2 separate regions of the Homo sapiens genome follow, and region 2 is linked to region 1. Evidence: fine-mapped expression QTL. Tissue or cell type: thyroid. Region 1 holds a variant in brackets; the other region holds the start of a gene. All regions are shown on one strand. Distances are from middle to middle.

Region 1 (8,090 bases):
GCCCAAGAAATAGAATACTAGGTCAGACTCATTTCAGAACTGGACCTAAAGGCAATCCAGTAGGAAGAGTGCTCATACAAGAGCAGGGAACAGACTCAAACAGGGGCAGGTACTTTTGAAGCAATAACAGGAGAAGTTGGACACAGAGAAAACCACTCACCTTCAAACTGCCGGGCCAGGAGGTTGCCAAGCCATCGCTCTAATAAAGGGGTAATGCCACGCATGAAAAAGAGCCAGACTCGCCAACCGGCAGCCCAGAAGCCACAGCCAGGACCCTTCCCTACAGGGCCCTACGATCCCAAGCAGAAGTTAAGAATACAAGTTAGCAATGCATTTAAACAACAATAGAAACCTGGGCAGAGGTGGGGCATATATGTATAATATACATACAGAGGAATGTAGGTATGGCAGTAGAGGGGTAAAAAGAAAAAAAAACTCTGGGACCTCAACATCTAAAACAAAAGGGTAAATGAGAAACCTTAAGGCAAAAACCAGGAACTAAGATCGCCCATGTGAATTTAAAGGAGCAGTAAGGACACAGTCATAGCTGCTCTCCAAATAGGTCCCTGGAAAGAGCCCTGTCTAAATGTATACATGAAAAAAGATCTGAGAAAGTTAAGTCCAGTGAGGCTGGGCACGGTGACTCACGCTGGTAATCCCAGTACTTTGGGAGGCCGAGGAGTGTGGATCACCTGAGGTCAGGAGTTCAAGACCAGCCTGGCCAATACAGTGAAACCCCATCTCTACTAAAATTTCAAAAACTAGCCAGGCATGGTGGTGCGCGCCTGTAGTCCCAGCTACTTGGGAGGCTGAAGCAGGAGAATCACTTCAACCCGGGAGGCGGAGGCTGTGGTGAGCCAAGATCGTGCCATTGTACTCCAGCTGGGGCAACAGAGAAAGACTCAGTTTCAAAACAAAACAAAAAAAAAATTGCCAGGCGTGGTGGCGGGCACCTGTAATCCCAGCTACTCGGGAGGCTGAGGCAGGAGAATTGCTTGAACTCAGGAGGCGGAGGTTGCAGTGAGCCAAGATCGTGCCATTGCACACCAGCCCAAGAGACAAGAGTAAGACTCTGTCTCAAAAAAAAGAAAGTCAGTAAAGTCAAGGTCTCACCGTGTTGAAACGATAATAGATGAGATGCTTCAGGTCCTTGCACATGCGAATCTGTCGCATCAGCTTGTATTTGTATCGATACATGCCCGTCAACTGCCCAACATGGGCAAATATATACTGCAATCCATCTGCCAGCTGCAATACAATTGCCCCATCAGACCTGGAGCTTAAACCAGCTCCACGGTCAGCACAGGCTTCCTCCAGCGTCCTCACCCAGGCAGGGGTTGGGAATACCTAACCTTACCTGGAAGGCATCCACATTGCCCAGCCGATACTGCACGTGACTATCCACCACCAGCTTAGTCAAACGCAGAACTTCCCGACACAGGTGGAAAGCATTCCCAAAACGAGATTTCTTTCTTTCCTGGAGAAGATGCAAAAAACAGACAGAACGTGAATGAGCAATGGACCCAACTGATGTATGCCTTCATCAGTAACCAGAGGAAAACAACTGTCCGTCCTTGAAGCCCAGGAGGCCCCTAGGGTCCAATGCAGGCACCTTGGTGGTGAGCGTTTTCACAGGCTTGAGGTTGAAGTTGTAGTCCAGGTGCAGGTAGTTGAGGTTTTTGCGGTGAATGAGAAGGTTGAGCATGTTGTAGCCCTGGCGGCAAACCTGGAGCCCAACCTCCACCCAGTCCAGCTTTGTGGACTGAAAGAATTTGGTGGCTTTGAAGGAGCGGAACAAATACCTGAGGTGGGAACATGGAGAGTAAGAGTCAGCCTACTGATATCTCTGGAACAGAAGTCTGCGCAGGGCCCCTGGGGCACCTTACCTCTTCTTTTGAGCCTTAGGGGGCCGATGCTTCAGGGCATTCAGCACATAGTACTTAAGCAGCTTCTGGTAGGAGACCCTCACTTTCACAGGCTGCCCGGCAGGACAATGCTCCCGATACCTGGAAAAATAAGCCCACCAGAGTTTGGCCATCTCTTCTTCCAGACACTCTGCTAAAGGCTGCAAGCCTTGGGTTGTCTACCATTTTTATGGGAAAAAAAAAAAAAGAATTTAAAAAAAAGGCTACATGCCCACCTAGTTGGAGTCTTTTCTCCTACACATCCACTATCATTCCCCCTGCCACAGGGAAAAACCTTACCAGTTCTTGACAAGGGGTATGTCCAGGGCCCGACGGGTGCGACCAGAGCGTAGGTTGAAGGGCCGCGGGGCCCAGAGCAGGGCAATGCCATTGGCTGTATTGTCTGTATAGAGGGGTGTGTCCTTCAGGAAGGGCTCCACAAACTCCGGGAGCTCAAATTCCTCATCATCATCCGGCAATGGTTCCTGGCTCTGAAAAAGGAATCCCTCTAAGGGTTTAGCTCCTGCTGAACTAGGCACAGACTTAAGATGAGGGAAATTCTCTGGGGCCAAGCACAAAGCCTGTATCTGCTATGGAAACTGGGCTGTCTGACAAAAGCAGCCCTGAAGTGCCAGCACAAAGGAAACCAAGACAGCAAAGAACAAGACAGGGCCACCAGGAAAGCAAGCGTCACTTCTCACACCTCAACTGGCTGACCACCAGAAAGCCTCCCAATGGAGCCCCAACATCACAGGAGGTCAACATTGCAATCATCTCCCACCCAAGCTCCAAACACTGGGCTTGGACACAACGGAACACAGATGAGCATCAAAAACATTATGGTAAGCTTAAGAAGCCAGTCACTGAAGACTACATAGTGTACGATTCTATTTCATTCTATCATATGAAATGTGTAGAATAGCCAAATCTATAGACAGAAAGTAGATTAGTGGTTGCGTAAGGAAGTTGGGGAGAAATGGCGAGTAACTGCTAAGGGTTTCTTTCTCAAGTAATAAAAATATTCTCAAATTGCATGTCGTGACAGTTGGGACAACTCTGAGAATAAGCTAAAAACCATCAAATTACACACTTTAAATGGATAACTTGTATGGTATGTTAACTACATCTCAATATAAAGGCTAAAACAAACAAACACAATAGAGACAGACCGGGACAGATTATCTAGAGCACCCAAGAAAAGAACCGTAAAGTCCAAAAGGATAATCACAGAAAACAGGATTATACCAATGACATGTTTTAAAGCAAATGCTGAATTCTCATATTCGCTTATAGCTCAAGGGGAA[C/T]ACTTAGCAAGACGGAAAACACATCTCCCTCCACCTGAGCGTTTAGTAACATCAGCCAACCTCACGCATTTCTCCTAGAAGAGCTGAGGGAAAGCATCCCTTCCCTTCCTCACCTTGACTGAGTGCCTATGGGAGATTGGGTTGATCAAAGGGTCAAAGTAGAAAGCTGGCAAGTCAGGATCCTCAGTTTTGATGAATACAACATTGGGAGTATGGTACCTAAAATGAAAGGAAGAGTCAGCCAAAGTTTTCCCGCCCTGGCCCAACCTAAACAGCAGCCTTCTCCTTTCCAAATGTTGTGTTCCAGGTCTCTTACCAGGTGAGGTGGACATGGTGTGGAAGATTGTTGTACAAGTAAGGAAAAGCAATCTTGTACTCAGTGCGGATAGGCTGCCGGATGATAATCTTGTTAATATCATTGAATTCATTCCAGTCTTCATCCCTAGGGTACAACATCAAGAATAAGCAGACTTTTTTTTTTTTGAGACAGGGTCTCACTCTTATCACCCAAGCTGGAATGCAATGGCATGATCATCGTTCACTGCAGCCGTGACCTCCTGGGCTCAAACAATCCTCCCACAGCTCAGCTTCCCAAGTAACTGAGACTACACGAAGCTGTGAGTGTCACCACGCCCAGCTACATTTTTTGGTAAAGATAGGGTTTTGCCATTTTGCCCAGATTGGTCTCAAACTTCTGGGCTCAAGCAATCCTCCTGCCTCAGCTTCCCAAAGTGCTGAGATTACAGCGTGAGCCACTGCACCTGGTGTAAACAGACTAATTTGGAAGTTATATCAGGACTTTAAGGATCAAGATTACGTTTCATTCAACTCAAAATGTCTAAAATCCCTAATCTCTCCAACTCACTGTAGGTTGATGTCTCGAACAAGAGGTTCAAATTTGGGGCCTCCAGGAATGGCCATATTGAGTGCCTTGGACGTAAAGAAGGCCTTCAAATCAAACAGGTAGAAGTAGTTGTCATCCACCAAGTCTGTCAGGAGCTGATTAGCCAGGCGGTAGAGAGTCGACATCATAGGTAGTGTGAACTGCCAGCGCTGGTAAGTGGAGCCATTTACATACCTAGGTAAAAAATGAAAGGCCCACCTCAAGTAAGCAGCTAGACAAACCCATACCACCTACTGATCTCCCAGGACTCCTTCTGCATTTCCAGAACTCCTCCCAGGTGTAGTATCTCCATCTATCACTCACTTCCTGCTGTCCCTCAACGGCTGGTGGTCATAGAACCAGTCCAACACAGGGGCGTCCTCCTCAGGGTCCAGCTCTAGCTGAATGGCCTCCAGTGGCTCAACATCTAGGATGTTGTCAGCATAGTCCAAGGGCGGCTCCTCATCATCAAAAGGGGGAAAACGCATCCTCTTGAAATGCCTCCTATCTCTTTTTTCTCGGCGCATCATAATCCACATTGACCTGGAAGGCAAGACATCACACAACCATTTCTACCCACTGCCTCCCAACCACCACCACCACCACCACCCACCATATTTCAGCCTTTCTCACCCCCACTGGGAGATGTAGACAGGTTCAATGACCCAGGGAATCTCATTGACGAAGGAAATGGCTCCAGTGATGTGGTACAGCACAGGCACATCCCGAATCTGCTCCCAAGGCATAGGCATGTTCTCCAGGAGTTTGAGGACTGCGTGGGGCATGTACTTTAGGGCACTGGCACATTAGAAAAAGAGAAGGCTATCAGAAATGACGAGGTGTTCTGCTACCTGTCCCATGCAGAGAAGCCACATGTTCATGTTCCACAGTCCTACCTTACAATCCAAACTCCCAAACTTAGCCCACAGGCCCTTCCTAACCAGAAACCCTGCCTCTCCCTCTCCAACTTCACCTTGCACCACTCTTCTTAAACGTCATAATCCCACAATGCTGGTATCAGCTCCTCTAAATCAACGGCTATCCCTCTGGAGACAGCTTTGCGGCTCTCTCACATCCTATTCCCTCCGCATCTTCCCATAAATCATAATAAAGTATTCACCATACTTCACTATCACCAGTTGTCTCATGTCTGTCAGGCCACTAGACCGCACACTGCAGAAAGGCGGAGATTGTTACCCTCTGCTCGCTACTATATCCCCAGCAGCCAGCACAGTTCTCTAAGTATTTTTTGAAATAAACAAAACTTCCAGTTCATTACATGGCAAACATTTTTGTGTCCAAATAGAACAGGAATCTGCTAAGACATCTGTACCTGTACTAGCCCAGTTTAGAGCCACAGAAAAAACAGGAGTAGGGAAACCTCTGAAATTAAATACCCCAAACACAGAATTCAGGTCCCTGAGGAGCGACAGGCTGCCACTATGCACAGTATCCCACTCTGGACTTCAACCAGCTCAACCATAGGGACATCTTATTTTTCATTTTTTTTTTTTTTTTGAGACGGAGTCTCGTACTTTCGCCCAGGCCAGAGTGCAGTGGTGTGATCTCGGCTCACTACAAGTTCCGCCTCCCAGGTTCACGCCATTCTCCTGCCTCAGCCTCCCAAGTAGCTGGGACTACAGACACCTGCCACCACGCCCAGCTAATTTTGTGTATTTTTAGTAGAGACGGGGTTTCACCGTGTTAGCCAGGATGGTCTCGATCTCCTGACCTCATGATCCACCCGCCTCGGCCTCCCAAAGTGCTGGGATTACAGGCATGAGCCACCGCGCCTGGCCAGGGACATCTTATAATATCATCAACAGGACAAATTAAAGCACCAGTCCCAGATCGGGAAGAGAGGGGAAACAGACTGCAAAAGTGGAAGATGTAGAAATTATCAGAGACTCCTACTGGTTTTCTCCTTTCTCTTATATCCACCAAGATGAGCTGTCAAAGCATCAATCCAAGACTGTGGGACAGGGAGAAGGGAAAAGGGCCAAATTCCAAATGAAATTATTTCAGGATGTTCCTTACCCCAAGTAAACCCTTTTGTCATGGCGGAACTTCCTGTTGGTCATGTCTCCATGGTCTCGAATGATCTTCCTGACATGTTCTGGGGGCATGTCTTCCTTCTGGGCATCCACAAACCCAAACTTCCGCTTTTCTGCATAGCGCTTGGCCTGCAATTGCTGCCATTTTCGAGCTGGAAAGGCACCTCAGTTTAAAGGCCTGCACACCCTCCCCCTAATCCTCTTCACCTCTTGCCCTAGGGTAAGCTCCTGTCAGTGAGTGTGAGGGAGAAGCAGGCACCAGCAGGAAGAAGCACCCCTTGCCAATTCCCTTACCATTTTACTCTGTTTTTCCTTTCATCACATTGATCACTATCTGACTTTTTTTTTTTTTTTTGAGAGGTTGTTTCACTCTGTCTCCCAGGCTGGAGTGCAATGGTGCGATGTCGGCTCACTGCAACCTCCGCCTCCTGGGTTCAAGCCATTCTCCTGCCTCAGCCTCCCCAGTAGCTGGGATTATAGACACGCGCCACCACACACGACTCATTTTTGTATTTTTCGTAGAGACGAGGTTTCACTGTGTTGGCCAGGCTGGTCTCGAACTCCTGACCTCAGGTGATCCGCCCGCCTGGGCCTCCCAAAGTGCTGGGATTACAACCGTGAGCCACCGCGCCCGGCCTGACATTTTTATTACAGAGCTTCAAGGTTTTGTTATTCTCTGTCTCTCCCGCTGTAATTTAAACCCCGTAAGGACAGGAATTTTGTCTCCGTCACTACTGTACCCCCGCTGGATCAGCGCTTGCAAATAATACGCGCTTAAAATGACTTGATGAAAAATTAACTGGAAATAACAAGGGAGCTGACACCTCAGGAGCTGCCCAAACGGGGAGGGTCCCCACCCGCCTGCGCGCGCGCACACCCGCCCCGCCTCCGGCCCGCGCGCCGCTCCACACTCTCGCCTCACCTTTCTCCTGCAGCTTCTCCTCCGACATGTAGTCCGGTAGCGGGGCTAGAGGGCCAGGCACCGGGTTACCCGGCCCTCGATAAGGAAACACTCCGGCCATATCCGGAGAATCTGGGGAGCGGCGGGATAGAAAAATTCACTAACCACAGGCCCGGGCCCACAAGAAGCGCAGCAGAAAGGCGTCCGGGGACCCCGGCCTGCAGTCCCGCCACACAGTGCATCCAGCCCCGCCCGGCCTAACCCCTTCGGTCACTCGGCCCGACCCGACCACGCCTCCCGCAGCCCGGCCTTAAACGCCTGCCACGCACCCCACAGGCCCTCACACAAGAGGCCGCTTTCCCCGCAGCGCAATGGCGGCCAGACTGCGTCCGCTCCGCGTTCCCAGCGCCGGGAAGTGCGCAACCCGAGTTCAGCAGTTGATCCAGTCGGCGCCGAGGTGCTCAGATGGATTAGTGAGACGACCAATTAGAGTTGCACACTGCGCCGAGGAGGCGGGCCCATAGGCGGAAAGGCTTTGAACGCAAGGGGGTGTGGTCGGGGTGAAGCCCCGCCTCCTCCATTTCCGAGGCTGTTTCTGGGGCCTCTGACAGACCTCAGCGTGTGATGGGCTCCCGGCGTCGCACTGTGAGAGAGCGAAGTCTAAAGGGTTTGAATAAATTTGCCAAGATTGCGCATTGTACGATGTCTGTTGTCATCAATGTGTACATGCAATGCAGTACTAGCTCCTGGACAGTCATTTGTTCATGCATTCATTCATTTAACCATCACTGTCTACCGAGGACGAGGGATAAAGCAGGAAAAAAGACAACCAGTAGAGTTCACAGGGGAGCAGAAAGGCAGGCAAGAATTAAGACCTTGGCCGGGCGCGGTGGCTCACGCCTGGAATCGCAGCACTTTGGGAGGCCGAGGCAGGCGGATCACTTAAAGCCAGAAGTTCGAGGCCAGCCTGGCCAACATGGTGAAACCCCGTCTCTACTAAAAATACAAACATTAGCCGGGCGTGGTGGCGGGCGCCTGTAGTCC
Region 2 (8,090 bases), 32 kb before region 1:
TCAGGGCTTTTCCTGAGGAAACCAGGCCGGAGGGGCGGGCTGCCACGAGGCACCTCCCTGAGAGGGAGGGGGTGGCTGGAAAGACTGACACTCAAAAAAAGAAAGGGAAAGAAAGGCAATGGCAGGGCTGACTGGCCTGGGCCTGGAAGGGCCAGAAGAATGAAGTTGCAGGTCCCTGGGTGCCGGGGCCAGGGAAGGGGGTGGACTGAGGCTGGGAGCCACGGCTTTCCATCAGGCCACACTCCCAAAGCAAGGCCTGAGCTGCAAGAAGCCACCCCACCCAGTGACTGAGCAAGGAGACCAGCGAGGACCCCTCAGCCTGCCTCTGCTCCTGGCAGGGTTGGGAGGTGGCACAGACATGGACAGACAGGCGAGGAACAGTTTCTGTGTATTACGGGCAGTTCTTTATTACATGAGCTCAGGCCGTCTGCACAAAGCCCTGGGAGCTAGGCAGTCAGCTCTCATTTCATGGATGGGGAAACTGAGACTCAGAGAGGCACTCTTATATCTGGCCCCAGAGGCTCGGTACAGAGACGTAGAGAGGGAGGCGGGCTGAGACCCCGTCCTGCCCTGATGCAGGCCAGGATTGGGGCAGACCCCTGGCGAGGGCTGTGAAGGCGGGAGCCCTGTCCTCATTTGAGGCCACACATCCTTCCACAGCCAGACCCCTAAGTCAGGCCTCTGGGGCGGCTGAGGCCCCCAGACAAAGGTGTTCGTGGAGGGCAGAACAGGGCGGATCAGGAGCTGGAGACTGTGGTTGGGCCTCCTCTTCTCCCCCTAGCTTGCTGGGTGCAGGGCTGCTGGTCTCATCCTCAGAGGATTCAGCTTTACCCCGATACCATAGGCCAAAGCTGGAGAGAGACAGCCAGAGGCACTTTGAGCCAGGAAGCCAGAGAGGTCAAGGATATGGGTGAGGGCAGGGGATGGTGAGAAAAGGGGAGAGGGGGAAGAAAGGGCAGCCTGAGGGAGTGTGAAGGTGATGGGGGCCAGGGCCAGAGAAGCAGGAGGGGACGGTGTGCTTAGAGCCAAGCACAGCAGGGTGACGGGCAGAGAAGCGGGAAAGGGGATCCTGAGAAGGACCAGCCAGGGCCCTTCCTCCCTCCCCACACTCTTGCCTTTCCCCTTTCCCCAACATACAAACTCTGTATTTTGGACTCCGGGGGTGGGGGATGGTCTCCCTTGTCATCGGAGAGCAGGATCCATGGGCCAGCCTCATCCTCACTGAGACAGAGGAGAGAGGAGAAGTGAGGGCCATTGATCAAGGCCCTGAGGGACAACAGGAATCCAGCAGGGGGGATGGAGGGACTGCAGGGCCCCCGGGGCTGGAGAGAAGGCAACCCTGGGGAGATGCAGGATGTCGAGCCTTTAATTTTTAATTTTTTTTTTTTTGAGACAGGGTCTCACTCTGTCGCCCAGGCTGGAGTGCAGTGGTGCGATCTCAGCTCACTGCAACCTCCGCCTCCCAAGTTCAAGCGATTCTCCTGCCGCAGCCTCCTGAGTAGCTGGGATTATAGGCACATGCCACCATGCCCGGCTAATTTTTGTATTTTTAGTAGAGACGGAGTTTCACCATGTTGGCCACGCTGGTCTCGAACTCCTGACCTCAGGTGATCTACCCACCTTAGCCTCTCAAAGTGCTGGGATTACAGGCGTGAGCCACCGCGCCCTGCCAAGGGTTTATTTTATAGCTTGACACACAGCAGGCCCTGACACAGCCGCGGCTACAGTTTCACCCCCGTAAGAATAAACAGACCCAGCCAAGACAGGAACTTGAAGAATGAATGTGGAGAGGCAGTGTTGTCAGGCAGAATGGATGGCAGGCAAGGCAAGGGGAGTGGTGAGATCCAGGGAGAAGGGCGCAGGCTGGACAGCGGCCATGGGACACAGCCAGAGCAGGTCAGCAGGCCCTAGAAGCGGCCAGGCTAGGGAGGCTCAAGGGGTGACCGGGTTGGGGTGACAGCCTCAGTCTGAGACAATGGGCTCAGAGGGTGACCAGGCTGGGTCATCAGGCTCAGCAGAATGAGGGAGGGAGGCCTGGCTCCGTGGGAATGCAGGCAGGGACCTACCTGCTCTCTGCTTCCTCTGGTGTCCCTAACATCTTGGCCTTGATCTTCTTCCGCTGCTTCCGGACAGCCACCTTCATGGCCTCGAGCAGAAGGCCGGGGACCCGGTGGTCTGTGAGCAGCTCCCTAAAGAAAAGGGGCAGGGAGGGAGAAAGCCCTGGTGATGCCAGCCATGGGGATGCCAGCAGTGGAGATGCCAGCCGCAGTCCTCACTCCTGGTACCTGTGCACGCAGCTCTTCCCTGAACACGGGAAGCGCTCTGCCTTGCTGACACCCTCAGACCTTAAATTAGGTGGCCCCGTGGCCCCCTCCTAGGAGAGATTCCCTGGCTGCTGCAGCTGCAACCCTTTGTACTGTCCCTCTCCCCTGTCTGGATGACATTGCAGGAGGGCAAGGGCTGTACAATTCATGTCCTCCCAGTTCCCAGCGCAGGCCTGGCACATGTCACTGTGGACATGTCAATGACTGGAGAATGAGGTGGGGTGATCGGAGGCCCCCCGGCTTCCCAGCGTCCTCACCGCTGGAAGTAGGCCAGTTCCTCCTTGAGCAGGAACACTTTGGCTTTGAGTTCATTCCGCTCCTGAAGGATCTGCTCAAACTCCTCCCGACTGAAGCGGCACTGCCCTGCCTCCGAGGGGCGCCCGAGCTGCTGCGCGGCCTCCGCCTTTGGAAGGACAGGCACAGTCAGAGGGTCGCCTCGGCTGGCGTTCCCCCGCCCCAGGGCCATCATGGGAATGCTAGAGGAAGTGACGGGCCGGGAGACTTGGGGGACAAGGGTGCCCTAACAGATAACAGAGCAGTGCTCCAGCTGAGAGCGGGGGCCGAGGCCGGCCGGGGGCGCAGATCTGTCTGCCACCTCCCCGCTTCCTGGCCGACCTGCTGTGCAGCATGCAAACCTTGCTTGAGTGCCCACCGAGGGCTGGACGCTGCGTCCTGGGCTGGGTCCTTGCCCTCATACGGCACTCACCGGGTCCTCAGGGTTCCCTGGGGCGCCTGCGCCGGCGGTCGCCCATTCGGGCTCCTGTCCGTGCTGGTGCCCGGGCCGCCCGGCCTGCCCCCGCGCTCGCTCTTTAGCCTGCGGAGTCGCGGCTTCGCCAGGCTGCTGGCGCTCCCTCTCGCGGTCCTGCGCGGCGCGCAGCTGGGTCTGCATGGCCGCCAGCTTGTGCCGCAGCTCAGCGTTCACCAGCAGGAGGCGCTGCAGCTGCTCCTGCAACTGGGAGCGGAGCAAAGGGTGGGGTGGGCGGGGCACCGAGGGCCCCCCGGAGCCCCGCCCAGCGCCTGCCTCGCTCCGCCCCCGCCCCCGGAGCCCCGCCCAGCGCCTGCCACGCTCCGCCCCCGCCCCGCCCCAGAGCCCCGCCCCGCCCTCACCGCCTCGGTCTCCTGGCCGCGCTGCCGCAGGTCGCGGTTGTGCGCCCGGAGTTCGTCCCGCTGTCGGTCCGTGACCTCCTTGAGCTGCCGCAGCAGCGCGCGCTCCTCTGAGGAAGGGGCGTTCTTAGCGGCGGCGGCGCGCGGCCCGCGGGAGGGAGGGGAGGACCCGAGCAGGTCGTCACCCGCCCTGCCCTGGCCGGGGCTGCGCTTACCCTGTGGCCCCGCGCGCAGCTCCCTGCGGAGGCGCTCGTTCTCCTCCCGCAGCCGCCGCAGCTCCTGCTCCGCCGGCTGCGCCGACACCTGCAGCTGGGGAGACCCGGGTCTCAGGCTTCGGCCCTGCCGGCCCCGTGGGTGGCGAAGGGAGGGCCATGACTCACCGAGTCCGGGGCGGGCCCCACGGCAGCCTGTTCCAAGAGCTCCAGCGCCCGCACCACTAGCGGCACCAGCCCGGCCGCCGCCTCCGGCCCGAAACGGCGCGCCAGATCCTGCAGCTCAGTGCCCAGGGCCCCGGCTAGATGGTACACAAGCTCCGCGGCCGATGCCGACCCCGCGGCCTCCCGAGACCCCCAGCCAGGCACCCCGGGCGCCGCCCTCCTGGGCTCCATGTCTCCCAGAGGCTTAGGGCTGCGACCCCCCCACCCCACCCTCCACTGGGACGGGGAAAAGCGAAACAGTTCCGCCCCAGGAAGCCGTTTAGGGCGGTGTGGGCGGGGTAGAAGCGATAAGGGTAGGGAGGAACGAGGAAGGGAGAAGGCGTGGGGTAGGGAGATAGTGCCCTAGGTCGCCTGGGCTCTGTCCTTTCCACCCCCAAGGTCACAGGAAACAAGACAGCCAACTTCCAGCCAGGCGTCCAAGAGCTGAGGTTCAGGGCTGCAAGTGGTCACTTGAGTGGAGCCCTCCCCACAGGCCCAATCCAGGCTCCGCCCGTTTGGAGTCATGGGGCCAACTTGGCAGTGGCCCGCTCCAGGCGAGAGGTGACAGGTAGGCAGCCGGTCTCTGGCCTCCGCCCGGCTGTACACAAACTGCCTGCCTGTGTGCTTGTTTTCCTGACCAGGACTGACACAGAAAGCTTAAAGGGCTGGGCTGGACACCGCAGCCGCTCAGCACAAGCCACAGAGTTCCTAGACCCGGGAAAGGGCAACTGCTCCCAAAACTGTGGAAAGGAGGCGAGAGCTTCCAAGTAGTTTTGTGGAAAAAGCAGCAAATGTGGTCAAGGCAGCGGAGTGTGAAAGCCCAGCCCTGCCTCAGGTCTCCACTGAGTCCAGGGGCTATCTACCCCAAAGCCCTGAATAGGAAGGGGGCCTCATACTCCCCCCTTCACAGCCGAGCCCAGCATCTTGCTGTGAACCGCTCCAGTCCAGCCTCCTGTTAGACCTAAATCCAGAATTTGAGTTTGGGGGGGAAAAAAAAAACAAACCAGCCCCTGAACTCCTATTTATACAAAATTTATTATTATATTTTATTCAGGATGACAAGCCATCAGGAGGTCAACAACACAAGCACAGACAGAGGGAAAGAGGCCAAACTGCTGAATGTCAGCGGCCTGTCTGGAGGGGCTGAGGCTTCGGCCTCGGGAGGCTGAAGCAGGAGGCAGGGAAACGGTCAGGCATACAGGTCCTCCCGATCCGCAGAGTAAACCTCCCCCTCCTGCAGGAGAGCAAAGTTGAGGAAGTGAGAGGGCCTGTGCACCTCGTGGTAGAACTCTTTGGGGTTCGCCAGCTGTAGCTCATATTTCATGTTGGGGTCATGCCGAACACCTTCGGGGAGAAGGAAACAGCCAATGTTAACAGGGCTCCTGCCTCATGCAGCCTGCGCCACCTCCAAGCCAGCCAGGCCCCAAGTGCAAAGGGCGATGGCCTCACCTTATCCCTACTGCTATCCCCACATCCCCAGGCTCCTCCCACTTACCCATGAAGTTGTAGTTCCACGAGGACTGGGCAGGGACCATGAAGAAGCCAAGGAAACGGTCCGACAGCAGCATCTGCACCCTCTCATAGTGTGAAGGCAGGTAGCCCTTGGGGTTGTTGCCCTTGTCTGTGTTCTGGCGGCCCCATTCGTAGCCACTGGGGGTCAGCTTGTAGGCCGTCAGTGTACAGGAGCCTGGCGTGAAGCTGGGGGAGGAACGAGGACAGAGTAACAGCTCAGGCCACTGTTCTGGGCCCTGGCCTGCAATCCCTGCCCCACCATACTTCCTCCCAAGGAGCCCAGGCCCACCTGCATGTGATGATAATGGTCTTCTCGCCATCCCAAGATGGGTTGTCAGCCATGATCTTGGCATGGGTGGTGACATCCTGGGGTGATAACTGCGGGGACTCATTGGGCTGAGTGTGGATCCAACCTAAGGGTTCCATCTCCTATAGGTAAAGAGGAGTACAGAGCTGAATCCCATCCACAGACAGGAATCGCACCAGCTTTTCCACACTCCCAGGCTCCATCACTCCCCATTACCTTGAGGTACTCATGCTGGGGCAGCTGGCCAGGCAGGTGCACGGTCTGGTGAGTGCCCCACTGCGGCACCATCACAATGCAGCGGATCTCCTTCACCTGGGGGTTATCTGGTGGGCTCACCCCATATAGGTATCCTGCAATCTGGAGACAAAGGGGTCAGGAACCAAAACTCTTCTTAGTACCAGGTCAGAGTTGGAGCTGCCAGCCCTCTGTTTCCTTCCTTCCCCCAAGAACGAGGACAGAGTTTCTTAAAACGTGATCAGAACCCCCTGTATCAGAATCAGCTGGGGTGCTTGTTCAAAATGTTAGACATGGACCTCATCGCGGACTTACCACATCAGAATCTCCTGAGTGGGGTCCAGGAATCTGCACTGCTCACAAGCTCCCCAGCTGATTATTAAGCATAGTATTCACAAGCAAATGAGCACACATGCAGCTCAGTGTATTTTCACAAGCTGAAAACATCTGGAAAACCAGCACTTGGTGCTATTTTAAGTTTTACATTATCACCAAGAAAGAAAGAGGATCTGTTTACTATAAACTCACCCACACAGGATATTAACAATCTTTTCAAATTTGCCAACCTGACAGCCACTAAATAGTGGGTTTGAGATGGAGTCTCACTCTGTCAGCAAGGCTGGAGTGCAGTGGTGTGATCTCAGCTCACTGCGACCTCCGCCTCCTGGGTTCAAGCAATTCTCCTGCCTCAGCTTCCTGAGTAGCTGGGACTACAGGCACATGCCACCATGCCCCGCTAATTTTCATATATTTAAGAGAGACGGGGTTTCGCCACGTTGGCCAAGCTGGTCTTGAACTCCTGACCTCAAGTGATTCACCCACCTTGGCCCAAAATGATGTTTTATAAACTATAATATCCCTGATACACTAGTAAAGTTATGCATCTTTTCTCTTTTTTGAAGCAGGGTATCACTCTGTCACCCAGGCTAGCAGGCAGTGACATGATCTCAGCTCACTACACTCACCACCCTCCAGGATCAGGTGATCCTCCCACCTCAGCCTCCTGAGTAGCTGAGATTACAGGTGTATGCCACCATGCCTGGCTAGTTTTTTTTTTTTTTTTTTGTAGAGACTCCATTTCGTCATGTTGCCCAGGCTGGTCTCGAACTCCTGGGCTCAAAAGATCTGCCCACCTCGGCCTCCCACAGTGCTGGGATTACAGTCATGAGCCACTGTGCCCAGCCTGGAGTGCAGTGGGGTCATCAAAGCTCACTGCTTGCGTTCAAGCAACCTCATCCTCCTGAGTAGCTGGGACTACAGCCACGTTTTTTTTGGTTTTGTTTTTTTAGACGGGGTCTTGCTCTGTTGCCCAGGCTGGAGTGCAGTGATGCAATCTTGGCTCACTGCAAGCTCCACCTCACCTCCCGGGTTCAAGCAATTCTCCTGTCTCAACCTCCCTAGTAGCTGCAACTACGGGCGCATGCCACCATGCCTGGCTAATTTTTTGTATTTTTAGTAGAGACAGGGTTTCACCATATTGGTCAGGCTGGTCTCAAACCCCTGACCTCAGGTGATCCACCCACCTAGGCCTCCCAAAGTGCTGGGATTATAGGCATTAGCCACTGTGCCCAGCCGAGTGTTGGGATTACAGGCATGAGCCAGCACGCACACCTGGTCAGGAATTTGTTTCTGACCATATCTGTTCTCTTCCAAATACTATCAGGCCAATACTACAATTACTACCTTCTCTCAGCTGCCACAGCTTTTGCTATCTCATGGGGCCAAAACCCACCTCGTTGTTTTGGCTATCCTTGTATAATTACTCATCCATGAATCTTGAAACCAGCATCTCAAGTTCCAGACAATCTCAGGTCTGAGTTTTAGGCACAAAATGAGTTGGGCACACACTGTGGCCTAGCTGAGTCCACTTACTCACTTGGGCCCGAAGGTCAGATATGCAGATGAACTTCTTAAGCACATTCTTGGGAAGGATGTAGGTGTAGCCAGTCTCCTTGATGTCGTCAGATGAAACATAGATGTGATTGGTCCTTAGGTGCAGGTTGGCAGCAGAGATGGCCCTAAAAACAGGCAGGGAGTGTCAGCATCGCTCAGCCCAGCACCTTAGGTAGTGCAGCCGGCCTTTCCATCCCCACCCTCTTGCCCGACAGTACCTGACCCTCCACTCAGTCTTGGATGAGAAAGTCTGGGTCTCATAGTTGCTGGTGGTGGAGGTGATGATCTCATCGCCATGCT

Direction of the effects. Alleles are on the strand shown, and positions count from the first base shown. SD is a standard deviation of normalised expression in the study named.
With allele T in place of C in region 1, the expression in thyroid of the gene that starts at base 4,098 in region 2 is higher (large effect, 0.84 SD a copy in GTEx).

The links. PIP is the estimated chance that this variant, and not a neighbour inherited with it, causes the effect.
Region 2: RILP starts here. The variant in region 1 is fine-mapped to the expression of RILP in thyroid (GTEx, PIP above 0.99).

Annotation. Positions count from the first base shown.
Region 1 is chr17:1,677,405-1,685,494 of GRCh38, forward strand. It overlaps PRPF8 (pre-mRNA processing factor 8), which reads right to left and starts at 7,463. Exons shown (of 43, transcript NM_006445.4): 1 at 7,376-7,463; 2 at 7,068-7,178; 3 at 6,129-6,297; 4 at 4,725-4,889; 5 at 4,416-4,634; 6 at 4,074-4,286; 7 at 3,525-3,650; 8 at 3,322-3,427; 9 at 2,205-2,395; 10 at 1,887-2,006; 11 at 1,613-1,802; 12 at 1,358-1,477; 13 at 1,114-1,248; 14 at 161-290. The coding sequence starts at 7,167. The variant C/T (reference allele first, on the strand shown) is at 3,209.
Region 2 is chr17:1,645,769-1,653,858 of GRCh38, forward strand. RILP (Rab interacting lysosomal protein) reads right to left here and starts at 4,098. Exons shown (of 8, transcript NM_031430.3): 1 at 3,809-4,098; 2 at 3,644-3,737; 3 at 3,432-3,538; 4 at 3,031-3,276; 5 at 2,582-2,727; 6 at 2,067-2,189; 7 at 1,138-1,221; 8 at 382-851. The coding sequence starts at 4,036. The coding sequence ends at 674. It overlaps PRPF8 (pre-mRNA processing factor 8), which reads right to left. Exons shown (of 43, transcript NM_006445.4): 38 at 8,009-8,090; 39 at 7,774-7,915; 40 at 5,880-6,020; 41 at 5,646-5,785; 42 at 5,340-5,542; 43 at 4,861-5,188. The coding sequence ends at 5,034. RefSeq lists a silencer at 3,407-3,701 and an enhancer at 5,335-5,845.